7 linked regions of the Homo sapiens genome follow. The protein of the gene in region 1 interacts with the protein of each later gene in a pairwise test. Each region holds a gene or a part of one and is shown in the gene's direction. Other genes may lie near its edges.

Evidence for each region.
Region 2: the proteins of LAMP2 (region 1) and SPMAP2 interact in binary tests that used the Homo sapiens proteins (3 or more experiments, as listed by UniProt).
Region 3: the proteins of LAMP2 (region 1) and MYBPHL interact in binary tests that used the Homo sapiens proteins (3 or more experiments, as listed by UniProt).
Region 4: the proteins of LAMP2 (region 1) and FYN interact in binary tests that used the Homo sapiens proteins (3 or more experiments, as listed by UniProt).
Region 5: the proteins of LAMP2 (region 1) and FASTKD2 interact in binary tests that used the Homo sapiens proteins (3 or more experiments, as listed by UniProt).
Region 6: the proteins of LAMP2 (region 1) and FAM9A interact in binary tests that used the Homo sapiens proteins (3 or more experiments, as listed by UniProt).
Region 7: the proteins of LAMP2 (region 1) and KLHL36 interact in binary tests that used the Homo sapiens proteins (3 or more experiments, as listed by UniProt).

The regions. Positions count from the first base shown.
Region 1 is NC_000023.11:120,452,297-120,455,796, reverse strand, and holds part of LAMP2 (lysosome-associated membrane glycoprotein 2 isoform A precursor), read left to right. Parts: intron 1-226; coding exon 227-440; intron 441-3,500. UniProt on the Homo sapiens protein: Lysosomal membrane glycoprotein which plays an important role in lysosome biogenesis, lysosomal pH regulation and autophagy.
Region 2 is NC_000019.10:363,637-366,026, reverse strand, and holds part of SPMAP2 (sperm microtubule associated protein 2), read left to right. Parts: intron 1-1,006; coding exon of another isoform or gene 1,007-1,102; intron 1,103-2,390. UniProt on the Homo sapiens protein: May be involved (but not essential) in spermatogenesis.
Region 3 is NC_000001.11:109,294,439-109,297,011, reverse strand, and holds part of MYBPHL (myosin-binding protein H-like), read left to right. Parts: intron 1-69; coding exon 70-229; intron 230-641; coding exon 642-778; intron 779-1,714; coding exon 1,715-1,901; intron 1,902-2,573. UniProt on the Homo sapiens protein: Myosin-binding protein which plays a role in cardiac function. Seems to regulate conduction in the atria and ventricular conduction systems.
Region 4 is NC_000006.12:111,698,953-111,702,452, reverse strand, and holds part of FYN (tyrosine-protein kinase Fyn), read left to right. Parts: intron 1-2,184; coding exon 2,185-2,349; intron 2,350-2,782; coding exon of another isoform or gene 2,783-2,938; intron 2,939-3,500. UniProt on the Homo sapiens protein: Non-receptor tyrosine-protein kinase that plays a role in many biological processes including regulation of cell growth and survival, cell adhesion, integrin-mediated signaling, cytoskeletal remodeling, cell motility, immune response and axon guidance.
Region 5 is NC_000002.12:206,793,106-206,796,605, forward strand, and holds the end of FASTKD2 (FAST kinase domain-containing protein 2, mitochondrial), read left to right. Parts: 3' UTR 1-3,084; downstream 3,085-3,500. UniProt on the Homo sapiens protein: Plays an important role in assembly of the mitochondrial large ribosomal subunit.
Region 6 is NC_000023.11:8,791,384-8,794,883, reverse strand, and holds part of FAM9A (protein FAM9A), read left to right. Parts: intron 1-1,127; coding exon 1,128-1,226; intron 1,227-3,500.
Region 7 is NC_000016.10:84,665,511-84,668,186, forward strand, and holds the end of KLHL36 (kelch-like protein 36), read left to right. Parts: 3' UTR 1-2,176; downstream 2,177-2,676.

The DNA.
Region 1 (3,500 bases):
CAGCAGCTCAAGCCAGTTTTCCTTTTCTTTTTAGACATACACGAATTTATCCAGAGGAGTGGTATGTAGCAGAAGAATCAGGGACTGGTTTACACAGCAAACCAGGCAAAGGGCAACCTGGCCATGGAGAATGTATGATTTAGGCTGAAGTGGCATGCCCTACATAAATGCTTGGTGTTCCTTGCTGCCTGTTTGTTTCTCACCCCCAAATTTCTATTTCTTTTAGAAAACTGTAACCATTTCAGACCATGGCACTGTGACATATAATGGAAGCATTTGTGGGGATGATCAGAATGGTCCCAAAATAGCAGTGCAGTTCGGACCTGGCTTTTCCTGGATTGCGAATTTTACCAAGGCAGCATCTACTTATTCAATTGACAGCGTCTCATTTTCCTACAACACTGGTGATAACACAACATTTCCTGATGCTGAAGATAAAGGTAACCTTAAGAATGGATTTGTGTTATGTTCTCTTGCTTTTTATTAATGATAAAAATGTAAACAATTTTAAAATTGTTATGAATGTCTGTCTTCCTAACTAGCATGGAAACTTCATGTCTTTATAACCCTCCCACTGACCCCATGCATGGCACATATGACACCATCCAACATACTGATGATATTTGCTGTCATTGCTTGAGTGACTTACTGTATACCAGGTATTATCCTAGTATACAGTAAGTCACCTTACTATATATATCCTAGTATACATATATATGTGTATATATATACATATATATGTATATCCTAGTATATATGTATATATATATATACACATATATCCTAGTATATATATACACACATATCCTAGTATATATGTATATATATATCCTAGTGTGTGTGTATATATATATATATATATCCTAGTGTGTGTGTGTGTGTATATATATATATATATCTCCTAGTATACAGTAACACACCTAGTGTGTTACCTGCAGCATCTCACTTAATTCTTAACAGCAACCCTGGGAAGTAGATGTTGTTTCATTTTTACAGGTAAAGGAAATGAGGCTTGATAAGATTAAATGACTTTTCCAAACATCACACAGTCTGGTAAGTGGGCGAGCTGGTGTTTGAAGCAGTCTATTGACCTGCAGAATTCATATACTTAACTATTATTGATTTCATTCAGTAGTGTGCATGAAACAAAGGTTTGATGAATGAGAAAATGCTTTACTAATAGCTACTTTATTTTCAAGATCGGGGGTTGGGGGGGGTGTCTCACTATGTTGCCTAGGCTGGTTTTGAACTCCTGGATTCAAGCGATCCTCATGCCTCACAGCCTCCTGAATAGCTGGGACTACAGGCATGCACCACTGTGCCTGGCTACTAATAGCTATTTTAAATGTGTAAAAGTTAAGTAACCTGAGACTAGGAGAAATGCCTCTTGTTCAAATCTTTTTATCATTTAGGTTGGATTTTGATTGAAAAGTAAATGATGATTAGTTAAAGGTGTAGTAGTCCCTCATTACACTCAGGGGGTATCATTCTAAGATCTCCCGTAGATGCCTAAAACTGCAGTTACTACTAAACCCTATACAGGAAATGCTATGTTTTTTTTTTTTTTTTGATCTGATAACTGACATGGCTACTAAGTGACTAACGGATGGATAGTGTAGACAACGTTGATATACTGGACAAAGGGATGATTCATGTTCCTGGTTGTGCAGAGCGGGACAGCAAGAGATTTAATCATGCTACTCAGAATGGCGTACATTTTAAAACCTATGAATTGATTACTTTTGGAATTCTCCATTGAATATTTTCAGAGCTCAATTGACCATGGGTAACTGAAACCAGGGAAAGCAAAAACCGTGGATAAGGGGAGACTAAAGTCAACATTTGCTGTTATTTTAAGACAATTTCAGGTCAAAATGAACTTGGGAAGCATTGGCAATTAGGCCATTCTAGTAATTCCCAGAACTGAAATGCGTGTTAAAATATTTTGAAGATATAGAGTGTAGAGATTTTATTTTATTTTATTATTTTGAGCTGGAGTCTCGCTCTGTCGCCCAGGCTGGAGTGCAGTGGCCTGATCTCGGCTTACTGCAACCTCCGCCTCCCAGGTTCAAGCAATTCTCCTGCCTCAGCCTCCTGAGTAACTGAGATTACAGGTGCGTGCCACCACGCCCGGCTAATCTTTGTATTTTTAGTAGAGACAGGGTTTCTCCATGTTGGCCAGGATGGTCTCGAAATCCTGACCTCACGATCCACCCACCTCAGCCTCCCAAAGTGCTGGGATTACAGGCGTGAGCCACCGCACGTGGTCGAGATTTTAATTTTGTTAGGGATATAATTCTCTTCTTTCTCCCCCTGCCCGTTGAGATTGAGTTAATGTGGTATTTGTAGTAGCTTAGCTCTTTGCAGATAGTGTTTCATTCTGACCCCAGAAACAGGTAGATGGGCTTTAGTTGCCTAGACCTGGGGATTAATAACTCATTTGGACTTAAGGATGTCAAAAGATCCTATTCGAAAGAACCAGAAGTAAATAAGCTCACGTAAAATTTGGGAGGTATTGCAGAATGAGACTTGGAAATCAAATCCTAGTGTTCTTTTTACTAATCTCTTAGTTTGAGAGTATAACTAAAGCAAATGGTTATTGGCTATCTTATCAGTTTATCTTTGTGCCCTGTTTTGCCTTTCAGAGCTAGTATAAGATATGCCCCTCACTTTCAAGTAGCCTAAGAATGAGCTGGGGAGACAAAGCTAAATGCTATTCCCGAGTTACATGGAAAAATTGGAAAACATTGAGCTCAGTCTGATTTTGTTGTTGTTGTTTGCGTTTTTGTTTGAGGGAGTAGAGGGTTCATAAATCTCTTCTGACAGTGTGAGGAAAACTTTAGACTCCCTCTCAAAAAAGAAAAAGTACACAGTAAACTTTGCATATGGAACATAGTCCCTGAACCCATATGTAGATCCCTGTGGTTAAGAGTGCCTGATTTAGGTCGAGAATGGTAGCTCATGCCTGTAATCCCAGCACTTTGGGTGGCCGAGGCAGGCTGATCACTTGAGCCAGGGAGTTCAAGACTAGCCTGGGCAACATATTAAGACTTTGTCTCTACAAAAAAAAAAAAAAAAAAAAAGCCAGGTGTGGTGGCGTGTGCCTGTGGTCCCAGCTACCTGGGTGGCTAGGGTGGAGGATCGCTTGAGCCCAGGAGGTTGAGGCTCCAGTGAGCTGTGATCCCACCACTACACTCAGCCTGGGTGACAGAGAGAGAGAGACCCTGTCTCAAAAAAAAAAGAAAAGAAAAAGAAAAGACTGGCTGATTTAAAAGTGTTCCCGTGTTCCCACAAGTGGTCCTGATTAGGAGGAGTGATAAAGGAAGGCTCAGTGTGTGTTAGAGTAGTGAGAAAGCTTGGTAGAGAAGTAGGACCTGAGCTGAAACTCAGCTAATGGTAGAATTTGAGTAAGCGGAGGATTTTGAGCAGGATGTTTCCAGCAGGGGGAAGCATAGCATATGCGGCAGTAATTGGAGAGCTGCCTGATTAAATCAGGCTGT
Region 2 (2,390 bases), on another chromosome or scaffold:
TGGGACTACGGGAGCCTGCCATCACTCCTGGCTAATTTTTGTATTTTTAGTAGAGACAGGTTTTCACCATGTTGGCCAGGCTGGTCTTGAACTCCTGACCTCATGATCCGCCCACCTCGGCCTCCCAAAGTGCTGGGATTACAGGCATGACACCGCTCCTGGCCAGGAAGCAGCATTTTTAAAACGTGAAGCAGACCAGCAAATGAAGTGCACTGACCTATGTGGGGTTAGAGCGAGAGTGTGGCTGTTTGTGCTCACACTTGCTGTGTGGGGGTAAGAGTGTGGCTGTATGTGCTCACACTTGCTGTGTGGTGGGGGTAAGAGTGAGTGTGTGGCTGTGTGTGCTCACACTTGCTGTGTGGTGGGGGTAAGAGCGAGTGTGTGGCTGTGTGTGCTCGCACTTGCTATGTGGGGGTAAGAGTGTGGCTGTATGTGCTCACACTTGCTGTGTGGTGGGGGTAAGAGCGAGTGTGTGGCTGTGTGTGTGTGCTCACACTTGCTGTGTGGTGGGGGTAAGAGCGAGTGTGTGGCTGTGCTGTTTCTCTGTGCGTGCTCACGCTTGCTATGTGGGCTCAGTTGCTGCTGCTCGGGAGTGCTGGAAACTCAACAGAGTTTCAAAGCCCAGATGCCTACTAAATTCTCACAGAGGAGTTCAAAGAAGGCTAGGCTCTGGGCACGGTTCTTCCAGCCCCCTTAGGGTCACCAGGGCCCCACTGCTTGGCCCCCTTACCCTGCACAAGGGCATCTGCCGGGCAGAGCTCGCATCCACCCGGAAGGTGCAGAAGAGACAATTAGCATGCAGAGCAGGGGCCAGAGAAGCACTCACACCTGTACCAGTATATGGATGTTTATATTCACGACGTGTGTGTGTGGTGAGCGCGGGTGCGTGCAGGATGGTCTAAGGCAGTGCTGTATCTGCAGTTTCCATTCAGATGGCCTTGCCCAGCCACGTGCCACGTGGGGTTCTGCCTGCCTAGTGGAAGAGACTCCACACTCTTTTCCCCAGGAGCCTCTTCACAGAGCCAGGGCTGGTCTGCCAAGAAGTGGGTAGCCCTTATTCATTTGCGCAGAAGTTCCACGCAAAGAGGGATCTGGAAAGAAGGTGGGAGCTTTCCCAGAAATCAAAGGCCCTGAAGCCTTCAGAGACAAGGTAGAGGACAGCCCCGGCTGCTATGCCAGACTCGGTGGCCACCTTTCTTCCTAGTCTCCAAGCAGTCTGCTGCAGCTCCCTGCTATAAAGGAAGGGGTGGGGGAGAGATGGTGAGAAGGGGGTACCAGGAGGAGGGGGCCACGAGTGCCTGAGGGACAGCCACCAGGGAGCAAGACATGACCCCAGCCAGGGGGAGGAGATGCCTCCTGCCCCGACCCACTTACCACCATGACATGAGCAGGTGGAGAGGGGGGTGAACCAGGGTCACCTGTGTTGGCAGCAGAGTGAGGAGACTTGAGCTCTCTTGGCTGTGGCCCCCTGAGTCCCCCTTTCAGGTACCTGTGGCCATTTTTTTTTTTTTAGAGATGGGGTCTCGCTGTGTTGCTCAGTCTGGCCTCAAAACTCTAGGGCTCAGGTGATCCTCCTGCCTCTGCCTCCAAAAGTGCTGGAATGACAGGCATGTGCCATTGAGCCTGGCTGCCAGTGGCCGTTTAAAATATTTTTTCTTTTTTTTTCTTTCTTTTTTTTTTTTTTTTTTTTGAGACAGAGCTTCGCTCTGTCACCCAGGCTGGAGCGCAGTGGCGCGATCTCAGCTCACTGCAAGCTCCGCCTCCCGGGTTCACGCCGTTCTCCTGCCTCAGCCTCCTGAGTAGCTGGGACTACAGGCAGCCGCCACCACGCCCGGCTAATTTTTTTTTTGTATTTTTAGTAGAGATGGGATTTCACCGTGTGAGCCAGGATGGTCTCGATCTCCTGACCTTGTGATCCGCCCGCCTCGGCCTCCCAGAGTGCTGGGATTACAGGCATGAGCCACCGCGCCCAACCGAAATATTTTTTATTTGTAATTCACCCTGTTTTAAGTGTAGGTTTCGTAGCTCGATGTGGCAGTGCATATGACTGTAGCCCCAGCTACTTGCGAGGCTGAGGTGGGAGGATGGCTGGAACCCAGCAGTTCAAGTCAGGTGGAGGCTGCAGTGAGCTAAAGATCGTGCTCCAGCCTGGGAGACACAGCAAGACCCTGCCTCAAAATAAAATAAAATGGGGCCGGGCACGGTGGCCCACACCTGTAATCCCAGTACTTTGGGAGGCCGAGGCGGGCAGGTTGCCTGAAGTCAGGAGTTCGAGACCAGCCTGGCCAACATGGTGAAACCCTGTCTCTACTAAAAATACAAAAAATTAGTCGGGCGTGGTGGCGGGCGCCTGTAGCCCCAGCTACTCGGGAGGCTGAGGCAGGAGAATC
Region 3 (2,573 bases), on another chromosome or scaffold:
ATGTTGGGACAGGCCTCTGGTAGCTCCACATGGGGTGGCTGATTTCTGGCATCATGTTCGGCCCCGCAGCTGTGGTTCACGGTGCTGGAGCACTATCACCGCACCAGCTGCATCGTCTCTGACCTCATCATCGGCAACTCCTATGCCTTCCGTGTCTTTGCTGAAAACCAGTGCGGACTCAGTGAAACAGCCCCCATCACTACGGACCTCGCCCACATCCAGAAAGCAGGTAAGGGAGGCATGGGGATCATGAGCTGGGAAGACTTAAGGATAGGCCGGGCACAGTGGCTCACGCCTCTAATTCCAGCACTTTGGGAGGCCAAGGCAGGCGGATCACCTGAGGTCAGGAGTTCAAGACCAGCCTGGACAACATGGTGAAACCTCATCTCTACTAAAAATACAAAAATTAGCCAGGCATGGTGGTGCACGCCTGTACTCCCAGCTACTCAGGAGGCTAAGGCAGGAGAATTGCTTGAACTTGGGAGTTGGAGGTTGCAGTGAGCTGAGATCGTGCCACTGCACTCCAGCCTGGGCAATAGAGTGAGACTCCACCTCAAAAAAAAAAAAAAATACTAAGGATAAAGAGTCGACGAGGGCTGGGATCTCAGAAGCTACATGCCAGCCCCTCTTGGTGCCCTCAGCTACTGTTTACAAGACCAAGGGGTTTGCCCAACGAGACTTCTCTGAAGCCCCAAAGTTTACCCAGCCTCTGGCCGACTGCACTACAGTCACCGGCTATAATACCCAGCTCTTCTGCTGTGTCCGCGCCTCTCCCCGGGTGAGTGGGGGCTCTGGGGGGCACTGTGCTGAGCTGCTTCTTGTTCCTGCCTGTCCTAACCTAAGCTGAGTTGCAGAGCACTGTAACATAACATCTGTTACCATCACCGCCATCTGCCTCTTCTACAGCACGGTATTTAGGAACAGTCGGGGGGGTGCTTGGAGTCCAAGACGGACTGATGAGAATGACATTTCCTTTTGAATGTTTGTTTCTCATATATGGAGGTGTTGCTTACTGACCTGCTGGCAATTAGGCATGCGCCTCAAGTTGTTTCTGTGGTAGGAGTGACAGAGTCCCTGTGGTTTCTCCTTCCCATGCATACCTCATCCCATCAGGGCCGTGCACATGCAACCTGCCTAGAGTTCAGCCTTTTGCCACAACCCTGAGCAAGGCTCTCTGTCTATTTACAATCTAGTCATCATGCTCCACACACAGCAGAAAACACCATTAACAACCTGTACCAAGAATCTTTTGGGTTTTGAGTCTGGGCAAGACTACATGGAGATAACATCTCAGAAGGGGCATATCAAGAGCCCACTCTAGAAGCTACTCTCTAACCAGAGGGGACAGAGGCAACTCACAAGTCAGCAGTGGGAACAGAATATGGATGGTTCACAAGAGGTGAGCCTGATGCTCAGTGCTTCTGATCCATAAAGGGGCTGCCTGAGAGCCCGGAACGGAAGTTAGCAGTTTTCTTCCAGTCAGAAATATTGGTAAAGAAAATGAAGTTTCAGGTGCTGTTTTCAAACAAGAGAAGGAGCTTGGGGGACTGCTGGTGGCACTGGAAGGGGAAACCCTTCCCACAACATAAGGAACAGGGAGCCTTCCAGAAAGCCATTATCTCTATATAGACAGAGTCCCAGAAACTGAGCACAGAAAGACTATTGGTTCTTACCCTCGCCCCTCCTTGCTGCCTCCCTCATCTTTGTCTTCCAGCCCAAGATCATCTGGCTGAAGAACAAGATGGATATCCAAGGCAACCCTAAGTACAGAGCCCTGACTCACCTGGGAATCTGCTCCCTAGAGATCCGCAAGCCGGGTCCCTTTGATGGAGGCATCTATACCTGCAAGGCGGTGAACCCCCTAGGGGAGGCATCTGTGGACTGTCGGGTGGATGTGAAAGGTAAGGGCAAGAGGAGAACTAGTGCCTTAGGGTGCCAGTCACCTCCTCTCTCCACCGGTGGAAGAGTCAGGGAACAGAGACGCAAGCCTAGGGGGAGAAGGGGTTCCTCCGCTGGACTCTTTCATCACTGTCATCATCAGGATGTATTGGAGGAGACATTTTAATTATCTACTATCTCATTTCTCTCCATCACAATTCAATAATATAGGAAGAATTCTTATTTCCATTTTGCAAATGAGAAGACGAAAGTACAGGGAGGGAACTGGTTTGCCCAAGATTCCCAGTGTCAGTTAGTTGATCACCTGGCACTGGTGGAAATAGCCCAGGTCTCCGGGTCCTCGCTCAGCTCATTTTTCTTTATGCTGTGCAATCTTCTGACTCAGCCTAGGAAAGCTGCAACTGTTTGTCAGGCTTTATTTCACTTCCCCTCCGGTTTATTTATAGGTAATATTGCATATCCTCTCTACTTCCTTAAAGTATTTAATCACTTATCTATACCTGTCACCTTGTTCAGATCTCTATCATTGTGTTTAACATACTGTTTTATAATTATCTATTTATAGATATGTTTCCCTATTAAATTATAAGCATTTTGAGGGTAGGGACATTGTCTTATTTGCCTTTGTCCCCCCAGTGTCTAGCCCAGTTTCTGACACACAGTAGGCACTCTAA
Region 4 (3,500 bases), on another chromosome or scaffold:
CATTCTCATGCAAGCCATTTATCATGTTCCCCACCAATACTGCTGTTTCCTAACTAGGCTTAGACTTACACAACCCACAGCTCTTAGATCTATTATGTCTATTGTGTTAAATTAAACTTTTATAATGTACATCAGTTTCTGTCCTAACACCCAGATATCACCATTATTTTGTTCTTTCTGAAAACATATAATTATTAGATATGCAGTTTATACATTTTATCAAAGACTGGTTTTATGTGCAATTGTTAAAATGATTGCTTTCTTTCCTAGATTAGCAAGTATTATATGCCACTATATAATACATGTTCACATGTGCCTATAGATATAGGTGCACATGTATAGACACATGTCTATATCCTATTAAGCCTAGAGATATTTTTTTGTGTGACCCATTTCTCCATTTTCTATTGTTCTCCAGGACAAAGGCAAGACTCAAAAATAGTATATGATTTACCTCTACTATTGCTCTGTGCACAATCATTGAAATATGTATGTATAATTTTTGGCATGAAAAAGCAATCTTTCGAAAATGACAATAAGAAATGTCTGTTGATCCCTTGCACTAATGAACAATAGAAAATATTAACAGCACTTGCAGTACTAGTTGATTATGGCATTGGCTAACTCGGTTTATGTGGATTCTAATGAAACATTTGGGAGAAATGGAACAAAATATCTCCCTGAGCTTAAGTGATATACTCAAAATGCCTGCATGTTGTAAGGATTTTTCAAATGCTGAAATATATTTCATTACAGCCAAACATCAGCAGGATCCCCAGGGTTTGGATCATTTGAAAATACTGTGTTCGAAAGGGCACCTTAATAACATTGTAAAGCTGGAAGGAAAGAGGGGATATGAACAATAGACACTTTTTTTAATCTCGGGGAAAAAAAATCCATCTCACGTTAGACTTGTTTTTATATTGGCTTTCCCTCTTCCCTCTTTCTCTCTCACACAATAAAATGCCTTTGAAATGCTGACACATAAATAATTTCCTACCTAAACATCTCAGAGCCTGATTCCATCAAAAAGAAAGGAGTAAAAAGCAAGTTACAGCCCAGCAGCACATCTGCTTTCCCTGGGTCCGGGGGCTGCCAGGAGGGAGCGGGAGGTCTGTCCACCTCACAAGGCAGGCTCTGTCAGCTTTTGTCACTCCCTGATTTCTTATTCTTTGTTACCTTTTTTCGCCTGACTGATTTTTACTTGGCATTTAAGTTCCCCTTAGCACTGCCAGATTCTAAAAGGTTATATTCTTTTTAAAAAAGAAGAGAAAGAAAGAAGGAAAGAAGACAAAGAAAGAATAAAAACCTCCGAGTGTTAACTACTTTTTCCTTTCTTCTTTTTTTTATAAAGAATACATTCTTTCACATCTTGAATTTCTGTGAATTTTAGTTTCCATTCTTTCTCCTTTCAAACCAGACACCTAAATTATACGTCGAAGACTGTTAAAAAGTTGTTTTTTTTTTTTTAATGGAAAATATCCAAGAAGCAGCCCAGGAGTATCTGACATGGTGGAATGGAATCAGTTAGAAAGCGAAGAAATCACTAAAAAAAGTTACTTCTTTTTTTCCCCACCAGTTATAATCTTCAACCTTACTAGTTTATAACAGTTTAATGTCCTATAGAAGGATCCTCCACTAAAGTTATAATTTTAAGTATAGTCATATAGAGAGATCCCTAATCCCCTGGGTAATCTAGATACTAAAGGTGGGGAAGAACAGTCATATTGACATTCTTTAATCCAAAACCACTGTTTGAAATTAGTAAGGATATTTTCAGCATTCCCAAAAACATGTTATTAGCACGTTGAGCTGAAAACGTTTTTCTTCCTCAGTGAGTACAGAAACCAAAGCAGTCTGCGTGTATGTCTATGTATAGACTGTATCGTACCTGGGCTCATGGAGTAGTCTAAATTTAAAACGTCCTCTCTTCTACCTCCAATGAAAATGTTTCCGTGTGTGGCGTCTGATCTTCCACCGTGTGTGTGGTCGTCTGCTGGTGTAGCGCTGTTTAAGGAGCGCTGTGTGCTGCTAGTGTTCCACGATGTGTGTGGTCGTCTGCTGGTGTAGTAGCACTGTTTGAGGAGCACTGTGCGCCGCTAGTGTGGGTTTACACTTATGAGTGTTGTCATTACATGTGTTCTGCTCTTCTCTCCCTCTCCTGCCCCTGCCCTGCTCCATCAGAGAGAGCTGCAGGTCTCTGCTGCCGCCTAGTAGTTCCCTGTCACAAAGGGATGCCAAGGCTTACCGATCTGTCTGTCAAAACCAAAGATGTCTGGGAAATCCCTCGAGAATCCCTGCAGTTGATCAAGAGACTGGGAAATGGGCAGTTTGGGGAAGTATGGATGGGTATGCTGAGACTCAATTACTCTCTTATTAGCTTCCCCGTTTGGAAGATCCCAAACACCAAAGATGGAAGGTGAAAATAAAGACTGCGTGACCGGGAAGAAAGTTTGAATTACTAATAGTGGGGAATAATAATTTCAGTTTTGGTTTTAACATTCTGGAATTCCTAAAAAAAAAAAAAAAAAAAAAAAAAGATAGTAAGTGGGCAAAATTGGCAAATGGCTCAAGTTGTACTATTACATGACTCTCAATTCATAAACCAGCAAATGGTCCAAGGAATGTTCCAGCTGCCATAAAATATCTTGCTCTTCATTTCCAAAAGCAAATATTTGTTGAGTGTCATCCTAACGGGCAAGTCACCTTCCATCTTTCCTAGTGCATGCATAATTATGGATTATAAGGACTGTGTTTTCTTTATTAATTCCCTTTCCTGTAGAGAAAGCTGATGGTTTGTGTTTTAACTTAACTGTGATTGCATCGAGTTGTACCCCACAAACTTCTGGATTGGCTAAAGATGCTTGGGAAGTTGCACGTCGTTCGTTGTGTCTGGAGAAGAAGCTGGGTCAGGGGTGTTTCGCTGAAGTGTGGCTTGGTAAGGCAGAGGGCACATTTTGTTTTGGCTGCATCTCAAAGCCGATTAAAAGGATGGTTTTGAACAAAAATGCACACACAGCCGTTGGGACAAAGACACTTAACCTGGATAACTAGACGGGCACAGGCCATCCAGATTTTCAGAATATGCTGATACCTTGCTGTGCTCATCTGTCCTACTTCATGTGGTTAATTAAGGCACCCGCAGAACAGGAAACCAGTACACTATGAATCTGGTGTTTCCTCTTCCTAAGAAATGGGAAGGTAAGATACTGTATATGGGCAGCCATAAGAAAGACCATGGACGTTTTGCTCAATGGGCCTGGGTTTGAATCCTTACTAGCTAATTAACCACGAACAAGGGGCATATTTAACTCCTTTAAGCCTCAGTTTTTTCATCTGTAAAATTGGAATGATACCTTTTTGTTGTTGTTGAGACGGAGTCTTGCTCTATCACTAGGCTGGAGTGCAATGGCGCGATATTGGCTCACTGCAACCTCCACCTCCCAGGTTCGAGTGATTCTCCTGCCTCAGCCTCCCGAGTAGCTGGGATTACAGGTGCC
Region 5 (3,500 bases), on another chromosome or scaffold:
CAGCTACTGGGGAGGCTGAGGCAGGGGAATCGCTTGAACCCGGGAGGTGGAGATTGCAGTGAGCCAAGATGGTCCTGCTGCACTCCAGCCTGACCACAGAGCGAGACTCTGTCTCAAAAAAAAAAAAAAAAAAAAAAAAAAAAAAATACAAAAACTATAGCAATATGACAACAGCTGCCAGGTTGTATCAATTTATCCAGCTTGCATTTAGAAAAGGTTAGAGCTGAAAGGAAATTTAGTGATTATTTAATTGTTACTTCCCTCATTTTATGGACGAGGAAGATAAGGCTCAAAGAATTTTCCTTTCCTGAAGTCTCAGCTATGCCATTGGTTCCACATCATTTCATCCTCACCTGCTCTTCAGCTTGTGTCCCAGGAGATCAGGCTTCTGGTTCCAGATTGGACAACCTCTAGTTTTGTATACTTGGCCAAGTGATTTAACCTTATAAGCTTCAGAACAAGATGCAGATATTCTGTTATTAAAGGAACTAAGGTTTTGTCTTTAAATGTTGAGTGTGCATCAGTTTTGAGTGTCTAATTATGACTCCTCTTCAAAGGATTTGACAAATTTGTGAATATTTATGACCACCTTTTAGGGTAGTAATTTTCAGTTTGTACTAGTTAACCTGGCAGATAAAAAGGCATCCCTCTTTTACTAGCATTCTAGTGTTAGCATTCTTCATTGCTTTGTGTCAATGAAAGAAAAATGGGCAAAGAGCTGATGAACATGAAAAAAGTTCAGTCTACTTGTAAAGACATGCACATTGAAACAGAAGAGATGGTTTTGCCTTTCAAATTAGCAGTTTTTTTTCTTTTAAGAATTACAGTGCTGATGAAGGTATAATGAGGCAAGCACTTGCATAAGCTGTTGGTAGACTGTAAATTAATACCTTTCTGGAATGTACTTTGTGGGGTTTTCTTCTCCCATAATTTAAAAAATAGCTTTATTATAGTATAATTGACATACAGTAAACTGCATATATTTAAAGTGTACCGTTAGGTCAGTTTTGACGTACATACACACACACACACATCTGTGAAACCACAATCAAGATAATGAATATATCTATCACCTCTAAAAGGTTCCTGTCTTTGCTTTTTTCTCTGTCCCCTAAACAACCACTGATCTATGGCACACATAGAAAAAAATTAGGAAATATATTAAATGCTCATTTTGTGTGAGATATCCAAATATTTTTTTCAGAATCCCTAATGAAAAGGTTGATCTTGCTCTAGATACAAGATATAAAATTGTATTCTTGAAATAGCTACATGCAATTCTTTTTTATTATTTTTTAATTTTAATTTTTAGATTTTTAAAGATGGGGCCCTGCTATGTTACCCAGGCTAGCTTCAAACTCCTGGGCTCAAGGGATCCTCCTGCCTCAGCTTCTCAAGTAGATAGGACTGATTATAGGTACAGGCTACTGTGCCCAGCTCAATTCTTGATTGAGACATTTACCAGCTCTCCGAATTCTCAGTAGTTACCACTGAATAGAAACTTTCTTTACACAAAGCTGATTAAACAGTTTAGAACTTTTAAAAAACATTCAAAAATTGAAAATTTCATATATACATAGCCTAACAACTCTTCTTGTCATTGACAAAATGTGATGGTATTTTTTTTGTGATAATACACATGGACCTCAAATGCAATTGAACTATTCATATCAAGTATTTCCAAATAACAATGACATTCCAATTTATAGAATGTCATGTGTTGTGAGGGTAGTCACCCTGCAACTGGCTTGGACATCTCTAAGCAAATAGAAGTTTCTGTAAGATAGAGATTTGGGGCATCTACTTGGAACTACCTATGAGGAGCTGGCATTCCTCAAATCCCAACTGACTGCACTTTTCCATGAAATTACCCAGCAGTTATGATGGTCAGTGGCTCACTCAGCAGCAAGCCACTTAGGTAGCTGGCGAGGGACGTGGCACAGCCTTGTCTTCACACAGCACATCACAGCCAGGCAGCAAAGGACAGATCTCTCTCATACTCTTCATTCACAGGGCCTGAGAGGTGGACCATCAGACTCCACCCTGTTTTGCGCTGACTTGTAGGGAGACCTAGGTGTGGAGCTTCCTGGCCAGGAGGGCAGTGGCTGCCCAGAAGGCAGGAGATGGCTATCTCTTTTTTTTTCCTGAGACGGAGTCGTGGTCTGTCGCCCAGGCTGGAGTGCTGTGGCGTGATCTCAGCTCACTGCAAGCTCCGCCTCCTGGGTTCAAGCCATTCTCCTGCCTCAGCCTCCCGAGTAGCTGGGACTACAGGTGCCCACCTCCATGCCCGGCTAATTTTTGTATTTTTAGCAGAAACAGGGTTTCACCATGTTAGCCAGGATGGTCTCGATCTCCTGACCTTGCGATCTGCCCGCCTTTGGCCTTCCAAAGTGCTGGGATTATAGGCGTGAGCCACCACCCCCGGTCCAAGATGGCTATCTCTTAACACACTTGTAACCCATTTGTGCACACAGGTGTGCCGTGACTCACTGGTGGATCCAAAAAAAGCTGAAGCCTACATTTCCCAGAGCCCCTTTCAGCTTGAATTCCAAATGTGACTTAGCTTCCTCTATGCAGATGTACCTACTTGAAACTGGGAAGGCCAAATGAGATAGAGGTAATGTTTCTGCCAACAAACAGCCACAGAGCATTTTATTTTTCTAGAAGAGCAATAACAGAGACCCCAGGGTGTGGTGTGGCAGGACGAGGAGCATCCATTTTGCTGGTGGGGATTGTGGCTAAAATAATGTGGCTCTGGAGCCAGCAATGGGCAGCATCTTCATGACTTTCCAGCTTCCAGGCTGTAAGCAGAGATAGCATCTCTTCTGGACAGCCAGTTATGTGATAGTGTTCTGAGAGTCATTCCTGGAAGTCAGACTAAAGGCTGCTCCTTCAGCCTTTCCATTCATCTTGTAAGCAGGAGGCTTCTGTGCATGGCCAGAAACTAACAAAAGCACATTGTGTCTAAACTAGGTTGCAGTGGTTTCTGTTATCAGCAAGTAAATCCTGATTGATAAAGATACTACAATATATGCACATATATATGTTATAGAATCAATAAAAATTGGATACTTTGCTTTAAAAGTTTGTGAATTTTGCTTTTAAAGAATTTCCCTCAGGGCCGGGCACAGTGGCTCACACCTGTAATCCCAGCACTTTGGGAAGCCAAGGCAGAAGGATCGTTTGAGCCCAGGAGTTTGAGACCAGCCTGGCAACATGGCAAAACCCCACCTGTACAAAAAATAGAAAAATTAACTGGGTGTGGTGGCATGCACCTGTGGTCCCAACTACTCAGAAAGCTGGGGTGGGAGGATCGCCTGAGCCTAGGAGGTCGAAGCTGCAGTGGGCCAAGATTGTGCCACCGCACTCCAACCTGGATATCAGAGTGAAACCATGTCTCAAAAAAGAAAAAAGAATTTAAAAAGAATTTCACTCAGGGTTACAGACACTTAATGTTATTAAGACCCACTAGGAACACCTGTGTATACTGCTGGCTGGTT
Region 6 (3,500 bases), about 110 Mb from region 1:
AAAGAAGTTAAAGTGAGCCCGGTTGGCATATTTGTGCAAAAGCAGCTGTAGGGTTGGAATTTCCTGGGTTGGGGTGTAGCTGCGCACGTTGATAGAAGGAGAGTTGGGCAGGGCATAGATGCAGGGATGGGGATATGATGACTGGCTGTGGAATTTCAGCTGGGACTGAGTTACCTGAGCACATGGGGGTGGGCAATGGGCAGTGAAAAGTGTTCCATTCAGTGGGTGTCGGGTCTCAACAGACTCCTGAGCTGTAGTACTGAAGTGAGTGACCTACAGTGGCAGGAAGGTAGTGGCTGTATGTTGGGAAGATGGAGAAACAGCTGAGTGCAGTGGTCAAGGGCTGGGACACTGCAGCCCCACTGCTTGTAATTCAACTCCAGCTTGACGATTGCTAGCTCGGGAACCATGGGCAAATTATTTATCTCTGTGCCGAAATTTCCTTATCTGCAAAAGGAGACACGGTAAGAGAACTTATGTCAGAGTTATTTGGAGGATTGAAAGGTTCCTGTGTAATGGGTTTATTTAAATTTTTCAGGATGTGATCTGACCCATGATTGCTCTTTATCATTGCTATTATTAATATTATGTAGATGTTGCAGTCATTGGGAATGATAAAATCTAGGGGATGACTGTATAAGTGAGTGCCACGTAGAGGAGAGGAGAACACTGTTGTTGGAGATTAGGTCAAGGTGCAGAAAGGCAATCATTATTGGAAGGTTCATCCGTGTGCATACTGAAATGACCAAGATTTATTACCTGTTTAAAATCTTAGTAAGAAAGAATGTTTCTTAGTTAATTTCTGTATATATCTTACCCATCTGTGGTCAACAAATTATAGGAAGGGTCGTCAAATACTCTACATTCAAAATCAAGAATTAAGACATATGTGTTGATTATGTATGTAGAAGAAAGAAAATTCCTTAATCACTGATGAAAAAGGTTATTATATCATTTTAGCATATGGGTGGTGAACACAGTTGTTTAAAATTGGTCATAAACATTGTTTAAAAGAAAGTGTTAAGAAGTATAGATTTAAAGAGTATTCCTATAAAGCTAATGCAGAATTATGTTTTGTAAGTATTAAAAATTACCCAATTTTCATCACTATTTTTTTGTGCTTCTAGAAAGCATTTCAAGAAAAACAGAAGAGGTGGCAACAACCTACAGGTGTTAGGAGCTGGAGGCTGAGAGAGATGAAGCCGCTACTTGAGCAATTACTAAAGGTCTGTTCTATTTGGTAACATAATACATTATAAAATACAACACGTGCATAACAGAAGAAAGTCTGTTTGTTTCCGAATGTATGGAAAGACATTTTGGTTATGCATTTTAAATTACTTACCATTTTCACTTTGAATGTATTGTTCCAAATTTAACATAACTGGTAAATGTATTTTTAGGATTCGTGAATAGTTTTGTGGGAGTTATTTAGAACAGGAAAAGGTAAATTGGAAATTTTACCTGGAAATATACATCTTGTGTATATTGTTAACGCATTGACACATTTATGCCGGAGGCTGCACATTTTTTGTGTGTGAAGAAACAGACCTTGGCTATGTTCTTGAGCGGTAGGAGATACATGATTCCCACAAGCTTAGCGTTCCAATAATGGAACACTAGGCATAAATGGGTTTTAATGAAGATTTTATTTTCAGTTTTCAGGACATCAATGACACATCTATGGTGGAAGGCAGGAAGACCATAAATCCTTTCTGGATGTCTTTTTTACTTGTGTTGTTTCAAGAGTTTTAGTTAAATAGGAAGTAGGCAAGTGTAACTACTGAGTGTCTCTTTTATTTCCTGCTGTAATACAGGAGTGTTTTATGGCATATTCACTTTCAAAATTATCAGCGACTAGTAATGGTTTTACATGACAATTTGTAGTCATAAGAGATGGTTCAGATGTATAACAGAATGGGAAAGCCAGCAAATTATTAACACGTTGTGAATTGTGAATTATCTGCTGTCGTATAGCACATTAGCAAATTGTCATCAATGACCTCTTCTTCATGTAGATGTACATTATTTAGGTAACAATGGAATTCCCTTCTGGGAGGTAAGGTATTCTTTTTAATAACCTTGTGAAAAGACATGTTCATATGTCACTCCTCTACACTAACTGAGATGTGTTAAATAAACTGAGAAAAGAGTTTGAAAATAAAATTTTCAAGCAACTTGAGAATGATCTATACACAAAACAGTTATTTAAATAGAAGTCACAAGTAGAGAAAATGTTGCTATAATGTTCACCAGAAACCATTTATTAATTGGTATGAACATGAGACTAGAAGTTTTCCTGTCAATGTTAATGCTACATGTTACCACTTAGGGTAGGAACTTTGCTATCATCTTGGACTCTTCTAAGTCCCTTATCCTTCCCATGCAGTTATCATGAGGCAAGTTTTACCTCTGTAATGGCCCTTAAATTTCTTTTTTTAAAATTCCCACCGCAGCTGCCCTAGTTCAAGACCTCATTCTTCCTTGCTTGTACTATTAAACTCTTTTCTGAGTTCTCTCTTCTCTTCTGAGCCATCCTTCATTGATCGGCAATATTATCTTCCTAAAACCCTCCCCTTCCTAAAATGCTTCCTAGCCCTTCCCTCTTCCCAGCCTGTCAGTGATGCCCCGTCTCAGTTCTTAGATATTCAGAGACTCTCCCCTTTACATGACCCCCTCTTAGGCTTGCCGCCCTCTGTCTTTGCTCCTGCCTATCCAGGTTGACAGCTTTCCCTGAAGGAATTCACTGTTACTCTTATGCTTTTCTCATGCTCTTCCCTCACAATGCTTTAAAAAAATTTTTTTTTGACTAAGACCAATTTAAACCTTTTGCCAACTAAGTCAACATACGTCTCCATTTTTGGCTACATGTCTGAGTGAGTTGCCCTTCCATAGCAGTTATACAATTTTTGTATTAATTTTTTTTATTTGTGCATTTGCTCATGTCACAGGATTATGGAAGAGATTGTGCTTACATTTTTTACATCTTCCTTAGCATTAACATACACCATTTTCAGGAGTAGGAACTGTTGAACTATTTGTTGAGGGAATAGTATATATTTCAAACATAGTTACATTTTTCTCTAACTTGATGAGGTCATATCACCAACCATTTTATCCCTTCAATGGAAACCACTTTCCGTAGACTATTGCTGATAATACATGGGTCACTACCTGCTGAAAAAATATATTTCATGGTAAGCCTGCCTGACTTTTTCTGTCTTTGCTCCATCTTGACCTTAAGATGCTCATCAACCCATTTTATTCAAGCAAAGTACATGACAATTGGACCTGCTAAAATAATATTTCACTGAAATCTGGCATTAAAAAATTTAAGTGGGTATTTGGAGCTCCATGTATTGGTTACAGTTTTTTTCAAATTGAAATAAATAACCAGCATCCTTTGAATATTAAAAGCTGTTTCCTTTTGACATCTGATTAACCCTGTTTAAAACGTGAGATGTAAAGTGGTGGTTTGTCAGTGAACTAGACTTTTTCTT
Region 7 (2,676 bases), on another chromosome or scaffold:
TGGTTAGCACGCAATTGGTATTTTTATTGTTCTGCCATTTTATTGAGGCTATCAAGTGGGACTTCAGACCTGGCTCTGAGCAGGACCACACGTGTGTATTTATATTGAGTGCCCTCACTCATGATAAGGTGACTTCATGGAGACCCAGAAACTCACCCTAAGGGGTGTTCACCTTTGAGGTGGGCATCCAGATGCTGAGGGGAAGTGGGGTCCATCCTCTGAGGTCCAGGGGCCTACTTTGTGAGCTCAGTTGTGTTCACCTGTGGTTCAGTGTACCTCGGCCCCTAAGCCAAGTGATCGTTCAGTGACTTGCAGCAATGTGGGAAGTGAGGGGACCCCTGCCACACCCCCCACCACCCCCTGTAGAGTCACTGACCTTCATCCTTCACCCTGGTCCTCCATGGTGCAGCAGCATCTCATGGGCCTTGTGGCTGTCAGAGCCCGTGGTTGGAACCCCGTCCACTGGTCCCAAACCTGGAGGGGCAGCTGCAGATGAGGTTTAGACCTCCTGGTGTCTCCGTGGATTCTGAGTGCCCAGGAGGGGAGGGGAGGGGGTGGCATCCTGGCCTCTAGGATAAATGCCTGGAGTATAGGGCAGCGCCACGGGCACTTGGAGACCCTGTCCTGCGCATCTGCCAAGCCTGGCAGTTTTTAGAGTTTTTTGAAATGTTTTGATACTTTTTGATACAATTTGCTAATAACTGTTTTGTAGAATGCCTGCCGGGGTTTTCCACCTCATCCCTTTCCTCCGGCCCCTTGATTTGTGCTGGACAACAAATGGCAGCACCAGGACCTCGCCTCATGTGGCTTTGTCTTGGATCTTGCCCTTCTCCATCGCTGATGTGATACAGCTCTAGAATTTCGTGAAGTTGCATGCAAAGTTGCATGCAGCCCGTGGGTATGACTGTCTCAGGCCCCCAGCTCATTTGCCAAGAGGAAACCTTAACCCCCCTGAGAGGGTCTGCGTTTCTTCTAGAGCTCCTACCTCAGTGGTGTGCACAGAGTTGGAGACACCTGAGGGCTGGTCCACGTCTCACCTTTGCCATACGGGTCATTTCTTGATCAAATATATGACTGGGGTCCTGGTTTACTCCCGCCCACCCTTTCTTTTAAAGTATTCTTAACATGAAATCCACAAAAGCGGAAACAATGAACCATTCTTGCACTTTACAGAATCATTGTCCTTAGCTTTAGAGGTTGTTAATTTCTTGTTTTTAACATGAACAGAATGTGTGGTTCTGAAGGTGTGTGGGGGTCTCAAGAAATTGTCCTTTGGGGCCGGGCGCAGTGGCTCACGCCTGTACTCCCAGCACTCTGGGAGGCCAAGGGGGACGGATCACCTGAGGTCAAGAGTTTGAGACCACCCTGACCAACATGGTGAAACCCCGTCTCTACTAAAATACAAAAATTAGGCAGTCGTGGTCGCCTGTAATCTCAGCTCTTCCGGAGGCTGAGGCAGGAGAATCGCTTGAACCCAGGAGGCAGAGGTTGCAGTGAGCCGAGGTTGCGCCACTGCACTCCAGCCTGGGTGACCGAGTAAGACTGTCTCAAAAAAAAAAAAAAAAAAGAAAAGAAATTGTCCTTTGGTTGCCTTAGTTACCAGAGTTGAATGAATGTACACATTTCGGTAGTGGGGGGGCAGAGCGGATAACCCCTTCCTTGTCTGTTTCCTTTGAGAAAGGACACTCCACCTTTTCAAAGGTACTTAAAGCCATCTTTACAGATTGCTTGTAATGTAAGGAAAGAGTCATGTCCTTTGGATTGATTGAGGTTAAATCATCAACCACTAGCCCCCTTTCAAAATCAGCGAGATATTTGATGATTAAGTGATTCATTGGGTATGTTCTGGCTACTGATGTTACTGAAATCTGCAATCGTGTATGTTTTTTAATTTGTTGCTTTTGTATTTGTAATTTTATGACATTTCGAAGTTTCTGTGTCTTAACTCTTTTTAATTAATTTTCTGCACGTTGCTTTTTTCTCTTTGTTTTTAATTCCATACAGAGTATTCAATTCTTGAAACACATTAAAATAATTTGCTTGCTAGGGTATGGTTTATTTTATAATTACATTCCTAGTCTTGTGTGGTTATTGTAATGATGTCTGGTCCTAATTTCTCTGCCCGTATGAAAAAGAACCCCTTGCCTGTTGATCCTAAATATAATTTGGAAATTAACCAGACTTCCTTTTGGTGTTGTGGGGAGGCTGGGACATTTCAATTCTGCTTTCATTGTGTTTCTAATTACTGTATTTTGCCAGGAATTTCATTCAGTTCCTTGATTGCAGGGCTAAGTCCCCGTGACCTGAAATGAAACTATTTGCTTAAATGTGTGTCAACTGGGGTAATTTGATTAGAAAAGAAACACAGAAACCAAGGGAAACAGCTTATGACAAGCAGTGTGCTATCTTTATCAGAAAAAATGCAATCACAATACTCTAAGAACCAGCTCTGTTTTCCTTCGGGCGCTCCCCTGCCTTGCTGGGGTTTTGCAAGGCCACCAGCAGAGAAGCCCAGGCACGGTTGTGCACCCTTTCCTTGTCCCTTCGGCAGGTCAGCATCGGGAGGGTTGGGGAGGGGTGTCTGCGCAGCCATCATACCTGATAAGGTGGTTAGAATTTGCCTCTGAGCCAGTGAGCCCCAAACGGGACCCGCTGCCCGGTGCCGACTTCCTCACC